Homo sapiens: one gene and its partner. The protein of the gene in region 1 interacts with the protein of each later gene in a biochemical or structural test. Each region holds a gene or a part of one and is shown on either strand. Other genes may lie near its edges.

Region 1 (3,749 bases):
TGTATAAGCCATTGAGATATTTTACATTCTTTTTTATACTAATTCTTCAAAATCCAATGTATATTTACATTAACAGCACATCTCAATTCACACTTGCCACATTTCAAGAGTGTTCAGTAGCCACAAGCAGCTAGGGGCTATAGTAATGGACAGTATAGCGCTAGACCATGGACTCCTAAACTTTCTTTTTTTCCTTTGGTGATAGGTGGGTGGTCACAGACAATTTTGAGAATCAAATGGGATTTATGGACTGCTTTCCCACAACAAAATACATACAAACATACACAAAATGCAGTTTCCAATATAGCTTCAGGGAGTTCAGAGATTTCCAAAAGACCACCCATAAATCCCCCAAAGGTCCATGGAGCCAGTTTATAACACACACACACACACATACACACACACACACACATATACATACACACATACAAACATATACAATCCAATATACATATATGTGCATATTTATATATAATACACACATGCATGTATAATACATATGTAGACATCTAGATTTATGTGTGTATGTATCTACAGATATAAATACAGATGTCTGTCTGTATGTACACATGCATGTATAATACATATATAGACAGATTTATATGCATATATATCTACAGATATAAACACAGATATCGGTATATACACAGACATCTCAGAATACTTCAGGTAAATCCTATAATTAAAATATCTTTGTGGAATCCTTTAAGTACTGAAAAGGTTATAAATGATCTAACTTTCAAAATTTAGGCAGAATAAAATGAAATAATTAAAAGACATGTCTCAGATGTGTTCGTTTAACAGCATGCCACCTATAAAGCTAGTCAGTGAAACGTTGCAATGTATATTTCCACATTGAATGCCATCAATCCTATTGACTTTATCTTCTGAAAAATGTGGTTGTAGTAAACACACACACACACACACACACCACACAACTCTGCAGAGCTAAATTTGAAGAACATCTATGAGCTATGTAATGATCAAGCATGAACGAAGGTTAATTTGGCCCACACCAGTCATCACATTCCTGAATCATCAGTTGATTCTATTAGACTATGTTAATTAAAGGTGTTTCTTAGCCTAATTAGATCCATAGACCTAGTGACAGCATGATCAAGGAGCCCAGTCATTTGGGAGGCCCCATCATTGCTGCCAGCCTGGGAAGAATGTTGCAAGCCTTCCATGGCAGGACAGATCACTTGCTCACAGTGAATTTTAGAACTAAGGAAGGCAAATAACAGGGCCTGCAAAAAGGGCATAGACTTTAGGGTAATGGAAACATAGAGGTCAAATACAGCCTTTCTCTTTCAGCTGACAGTCTTTGAATTAGTTCGCGCCCCATTGTGTATAAGCCTTTTAAACCAAGAGTAGCATCTGATAATATCTTTCTTTAAATCAGTTTTGGCACTTCCCAGAAGGTTAATTATATTCTACAGGTGCCTTTTAAAGAATGCTATAGCCTTCTGGGGGTGGGAACAGTGGGGGGTCATGTGAGATTCCATGTGGATAGGTGGGTAATTAGTTCTGACTAGATTGTCTCAGCAGATACAAAACTACTCTAAGTAGTACATCATTTTTCCCCCTTGAGGTATTTTTAAGATGAAAATCATATTAACAGATACTAAAGTTCTGTTCTTTGAGTTGTCTCATTTTCCTTTCATGAAAACATACCCAGAAAGCTTTACAGCCACCATAAAGGCGGGGGGCAGGGGGAAGTATATCAGATGTCTTCCAGTTAAGAAAAATGCAAGAACAGTTCCATCCAATAAACACTGTTCATGTAAGTTATCTCCTCAGATGGAAAAGTCAGTTAACTCAGGAAGAAAAAGGTCTAAAGTTATAGTTTCCTAAAAATGTATGAAATTTGTTTTGGTTGTAGGAAACTCATAGAACATAAGAATAAATTTGGTAAAGCTCAAAGATGTTCACAGTTGTTTATTGTCCACCTGCTGTGTGTCAGTTTTGTGCAGAGTGCGGTGGACACAAAAAAATCGTGCAGTGGTCTGTGCCTGGCCTCCTCTTGCATTTCTCATAGATAAAACTACAAGTTCATTCTCATGACAACTGCTGTGGCAACAAAGCAACTATTTAAATTCTCATGATACCCCCTTTGACTTAAGAAAAACTCATCCAGCCTTACTTCAGGTGAATCCCAGGAGCTAATCTATGACAGGCAATAGATGCCACCTCTGAAAATTGGACACAAAGGGCCTGTACCTTTACAGTGTCATCTTGTCATGTCCACTGAAATCTTAAAATGTTAGAAAAAACGAACACTTGGGGTTCAGTGAAAACAGAGGGATTTCAGAATTACAGCTATGCAGTTAATCCTTAATATATATTAAGCATTAGTACACAGAATAAGAGAAGAGTATAATGAGGCTGGGTGCGGTTGGCTCACGCCTGTAATCCCAGCACTTTGGGAGGCTGAGGCGGATGGATCACAAGGTCAGGAGTTCAAGACCAGCCTGGCCAAGATGGTGAAACCCCATCTCTACTAAAAATACAAAAAAATTAGCTGGGCGTGGTGGCAGGCGCCTGTAATTCCAGCTACTCAGGAGGCTGAGGCAGGAGAATGGCGTGAACCCGCGAGGCGGAGCTTGCAGTAAGCCGAGATTGCACCACTGCACTCCAGCCCGGGCGACAGAGCAAGACTCCGTCTCAATAAATAAATGAATAAATAAATAAATAAGTATAATGACCTCTTCATATACCAATCATTGGTGTCAATAATTGTCAACATTGTCCTAATCTTGTTTTATCTGTTAACCGTCACAGCTACCAGCACAGACACGCGTGCACACACACACACACACACACACCCTTTCAACATGTTTTAAAGCATGGGAATTGCAAATATAAGTCATCCTTGTAACCAAATTGCTGTAGTTTGTTGGGAAAATGAATTCTTTAACCCCCATGTAGTTTATCTCCTTGAGTGTTATACGAAGATGTGAGAATAATATATAATACACAGTCATGAGATAGACAAAGTACTAAACAAAAACTTAATCAGATGAACCTGATAAGGTTCCTTTGTACTTTAGGGAAAGTAAAATACTAAATTCTTCTGTTCTAATGTTTACAGCCTTAGAAAATGAAACCCTCAAACCTTAACTCACTGGCTTCTAATTCACCACAGTCAGATTGCCAGGGAAAAAGAAGGGAGTGAAATAATTTTAATTGTGTTCTTAAAATGAACAAGGCAATGAACCAGGTGCCTCACTAATGTCAACTCTTTTCATAAATTTGCCAGCCCCTGGGATAGATACCATTAGCCCTATTTTACAAAAAGAAACTGAAAAATTAAATTATCTGCCCAAGGTCACGGTCATATAGCCTTACAAATCTAGGCTGTTTCTGCCCTATCAGAGTTTATTGCAGTCAACTAACAGACAGAAATGACTCTGAGTATTTAAAACAAAGGGAGTGTAACATAGGGAATTGGTTACCCAGGTAAAAAAAAAAAAGGCTGGGAAGCCGTCAGGGGAGGGTGAGGCAACCCAGAGATTAGAAATTGCAGGAAGCTGCTACCATCCCTAGTCTAGAGGGACACAGGGAGGACAAGGGTCACCTTGCAGAAGCTGGAACCACAGCCAACCCATCCTGCAGGAGGTGCTACTGGAGGAGGGGGTGGGGCAAAGGGAATACCACCCACCCACCACCTCTAGTCTCCTGGCAGCGCCTGCTGTTGGCTAAACCCAACTTGAGGCCATCCATCAAGAGAATTGCAGCCAGCAAAGTTC
Region 2 (3,749 bases), on another chromosome or scaffold:
AGGCTGAGGCAGGAGAATTGCTTGAACCCAGGAGGTGGAGGTTGCAGTGAGCCAGGATCGCGCCACTGCATTCCAACCTGGGTGATGGAGCGGGACTCCATCTCAAAAACAAAAACAAACACCAGAAAACAAACAAATGTTTTGTCCATTTTTATTGGATTTTTATTCAATTGTAAAAGTTCTTTATACAAGTCCTACATCAGATAGAATTTTTACAAATATTCGTCCTAGTCTATGGCTTATCTTTTCATTTTTAATAGTTTCGTGCATTTTGAGAAACAAAAGCGTTTTATTTTGATGAAGTTCAATTTATTGATTTCTTCTATCATTTACACTTTTTGTGTCATATTTAAGAAATCTGGCCAGGTGCCAAAGCTCACACCTGTAATCCCAGCACTTTGGGAGGCTCAGGCAGGAGGACTGCTTGAGCCCAGGAGTTCATGACCAGCCTGAGTAACACAGCAGGACCCCATTTCTACAAAAAATTTAAAAATTAGCTGTGTGTCGTGGCACGTGCCTGTAGTCTCAGCTACTCAGGAGGCTGAGGTGAGAGGATCTCTTGAGCCCAGGAGTTTAAAGTTACAGTGAGCTGTGATCAGGGCACTGCACTCCTGCCTGGTCAATGAAAGCAAGACCCTGCCTTTAGAAAAGAAAAAAGAAATCTTTTCAAACCCAATATTGTTAAGATTGTCTCCATTTTTAAAAAAAAAAGTTTTATGGTTTGGCCATTTATATTTAGGTGTGTAATCCAGTTTGAGTTAAATTTTGATGGTGTATCCTAAATAGTTATCAAATCCATCTACTTCTGCCTGCCACCTCTCTAGTTTAAACCACCCTTCTCTGTCCCTGGACACCTGCGCAGAAAGCCTAGGAGCTGGTTCCACCCATCACTCACCAGGTTAGGTATTTCAGGCAAGTCACACCCTCTCAGGCCTCAGTTTTCCTCTTTTGTTAACTGAGGGTGAAAGTGGGGTTAGATTAGATCAGCGGCTCTTAACTTTTGAGGGGTCGTGGGCCCTAGAGTCCTGGGAACGCTATGCAGTTTCCTCAGCAAAATGCTTGCATCCACAACATGCAAGACTGCAGCAGCTGCTGGGCTGGGGCTGCGAGACCAGCGAAAAGCCCTGACTTGGGGGGGTCTCGGGAGTCTCTGCAGTCTCCCCACCCACACCCCCGGCCTCCGCGCCGAATCCTGGCCCCCCAACTTCTTGCAGCCCGTGAAGCAGGATCTCAGGGTCCTGGGGGTGGGGAGAGGGGGCTGCCGTCCTGCTCGCAGCCTCTGCCGCCCTCTCCTGGGTAAGGTGACACATGGGCGCTTCCAGGTGGGTGGGCTGAGAGCCTGGGGGAGAGAACAGGGATGTCCACCTCTCTAAGTTTCCAGGTTCAAGAAACCCCAGAACGTTAGAGAAAGATGGGCTCCCACAATTGCCCAACCCCATCCCATAGGATGCACGCATGCGGAAAGTCGGGCCGAACGGGGCAGGGACTTACCCAAGGTCACGCAGCGAGCCCGGTCCCCCTGCGTTCCCCGGGGAGCGCTGAGCCGGGACGCGGCGGTGGGGTGGGGAAGGGGAGTGGCGCGGCCCTGCGGGGTGAGGCTGCCGTTTGCTGAGTGTCCGGCAGGGGTCTGCTCGCTGCCAGCCCGGCCCCTCCTCAGAGCAGCTGCCGCAGCCCGAGGTAATCTCGGCCCCGCGCCGGGGCTGGCTGGGAACGGCGGGAGCAGCTGCGGTCGCGCGGAGCGAGGGGAGCTGGGGACCGGGCGGGCCCGGGGCTGCGGGAGGCGGCGCCGCCGCACAATCGCCCCGGAATGCCCGCCAGGGCGCGCGTGGGGTGCGGCCGTCCGGCCCTGCAACTCGAGCTGCTGCCCCTGGTTAAAAATACCCCCTGCCCGGCCCTCCCCCTCCGTTCCCCGCGGTGCCCTTCCGCCGCGCCCCAGCCCCCCCATCCCCCCCCGCGCTGGCCCCTCCCCGGGGACTGCTCTGCCTTTTACTAATTTGTCCTCTCGCGGAATTGGCCCCCGGCCTGCGGAGGGAGGGGCGGGGAGACACCGTGAGTAAGAGATAGTCAGAGACCGTGCCGGAGAGATAAGGGAGAGCCGAGAGGAAGCGGGGTAGGAGCCCCAGGAGGAGGAGGAGGAGAAGGAGAGAGGGAGGGCGGAGGGCGGAGGGGCGGCGGGAGGAGGGCGGGGAGGAGCGCTCTTCCTGGTTGGGCCCTGCCCTGAGCTGCCACCGGGAAGCCAGCCTCAGGGACTGCAGCGACCCCCAAACACCCCTCCCCCAGGTAAGAAGCTGGGTAGCCGAGCCGGGATTCCTTGACCCTGGCCACTGCTCCTGGGCTGAGGGGCTGCCCCAGCACGGTCCCTTCTCGGGGGCCTCTGCGTTCCTGGAGCAGGGGTGGGGGCTGGCGGAGCGGCACAGCCCAGGCGCCTGTCCCAGCCTGGCTCACCGCTGTCCCCAGGGGCTGGGCTAGGGCCCACCAGCTCTGATATCGAGCCTGCTGCGGGGGCCTGAGGAGGGGGACCCCGACCGTCTGGGGTTTTCAGCCCACGGCAAGGGGCCGGTGCACCAGGAGCTTGGTTAGTTTGGGGAGGGGGTTGCAGGCCTGTGAACAGGATCAAAGAGGCCTTCCCTGCTGTGTCCCACCTGCCCAGTTCCTTGTGCTGTCTGGAGGCTCCGCCCTGCCCCACCTGACCTGCTGGCTCACTACAGAGCTGCAAGCCCCTGACAATGGGATCCGGGAAAGGAGAGGTGGCCGGCACGCCTGGGAACTGGGAAATCCCTTTCCTGGATTCACTGGGAGCACCGGGAGGTGGCTGAGAACCCTACTTCTGTGAGGGGAGCAGTGAGGCAGGGAAACCCTAGGTTTGGGGATGGATAAGCAGGGGCAGGAGAGCAGAGCTTGCAGGCAGGAGCCCAGGTTCTAGTCTTGGGAAGGCCTGGGTTCTGAGCAGGCCCATCTGTCCGGCAGGATGTCGGAGGAGATCATCACGCCGGTGTACTGCACTGGGGTGTCAGCCCAAGTGCAGAAGCAGCGGGCCAGGGAGCTGGGCCTGGGCCGCCATGAGAATGCCATCAAGTACCTGGGCCAGGATTATGAGCAGCTGCGGGTGCGATGCCTGCAGAGTGGGACCCTCTTCCGTGATGAGGCCTTCCCCCCGGTACCCCAGAGCCTGGGTTACAAGGACCTGGGTCCCAATTCCTCCAAGACCTATGGCATCAAGTGGAAGCGTCCCACGGTGAGAGGGGCCATCCTGGGTGGGACTCGGCTAAGCCAGATCCTGGATGAGGAGTAGGGATGGGACTCCATGTCCCTGGTGGGGAATGGGGTCTGGGGTGGCCTGGTGCCAATTTCTGGGAGGGGCTGGCCGAGGAACAGGACTCTGGGTCTCTCGTAGGAACTGCTGTCAAACCCCCAGTTCATTGTGGATGGAGCTACCCGCACAGACATCTGCCAGGGAGCACTGGGTAGGCCCCCAGGGCGTCGGGTCCCGGGTATTTTTTCCACAGTAGTTCCCCATTCCCGCTCCTTCAGGCTCTGCCCCAACCCCTCCCTCTTGCAAGCCCAGGCAGGATCTGGCTATCAGCGCTGGGGCTGGTTTGCCCAGATTCCTGGGTCTTTTCTGCAAGCTGAGGGGAGTTAAGTGGCACCCTGGCCAAGGAACCCCAGATTCTCCCTAGCACCCGCTTCCCCCCCCGGGGCAGGTTGGTAGAGCAGGCTAATGTGCATCCCTCCTGCCCCAGGGGACTGCT

Evidence for each region. Proteins that work in one complex are often made in the same cells at the same time.
Region 2: the proteins of CAST (region 1) and CAPN1 are reported together in a solved structure, tested with the Homo sapiens proteins (one study listed by BioGRID).

The regions. Positions count from the first base shown.
Region 1 is NC_000005.10:96,665,349-96,669,097, forward strand, and holds part of CAST (calpastatin), read left to right. Parts: intron 1-3,749.
Region 2 is NC_000011.10:65,179,734-65,183,482, forward strand, and holds the start of CAPN1 (calpain-1 catalytic subunit), read left to right. Parts: upstream 1-2,194; 5' UTR 2,195-2,280; intron 2,281-2,718; exon of another isoform or gene 2,719-2,808; intron 2,809-2,967; 5' UTR 2,968-2,968; coding exon 2,969-3,235; intron 3,236-3,394; coding exon 3,395-3,464; intron 3,465-3,740; coding exon 3,741-3,749. UniProt on the Homo sapiens protein: Calcium-regulated non-lysosomal thiol-protease which catalyzes limited proteolysis of substrates involved in cytoskeletal remodeling and signal transduction. Proteolytically cleaves CTBP1 at 'Asn-375', 'Gly-387' and 'His-409'.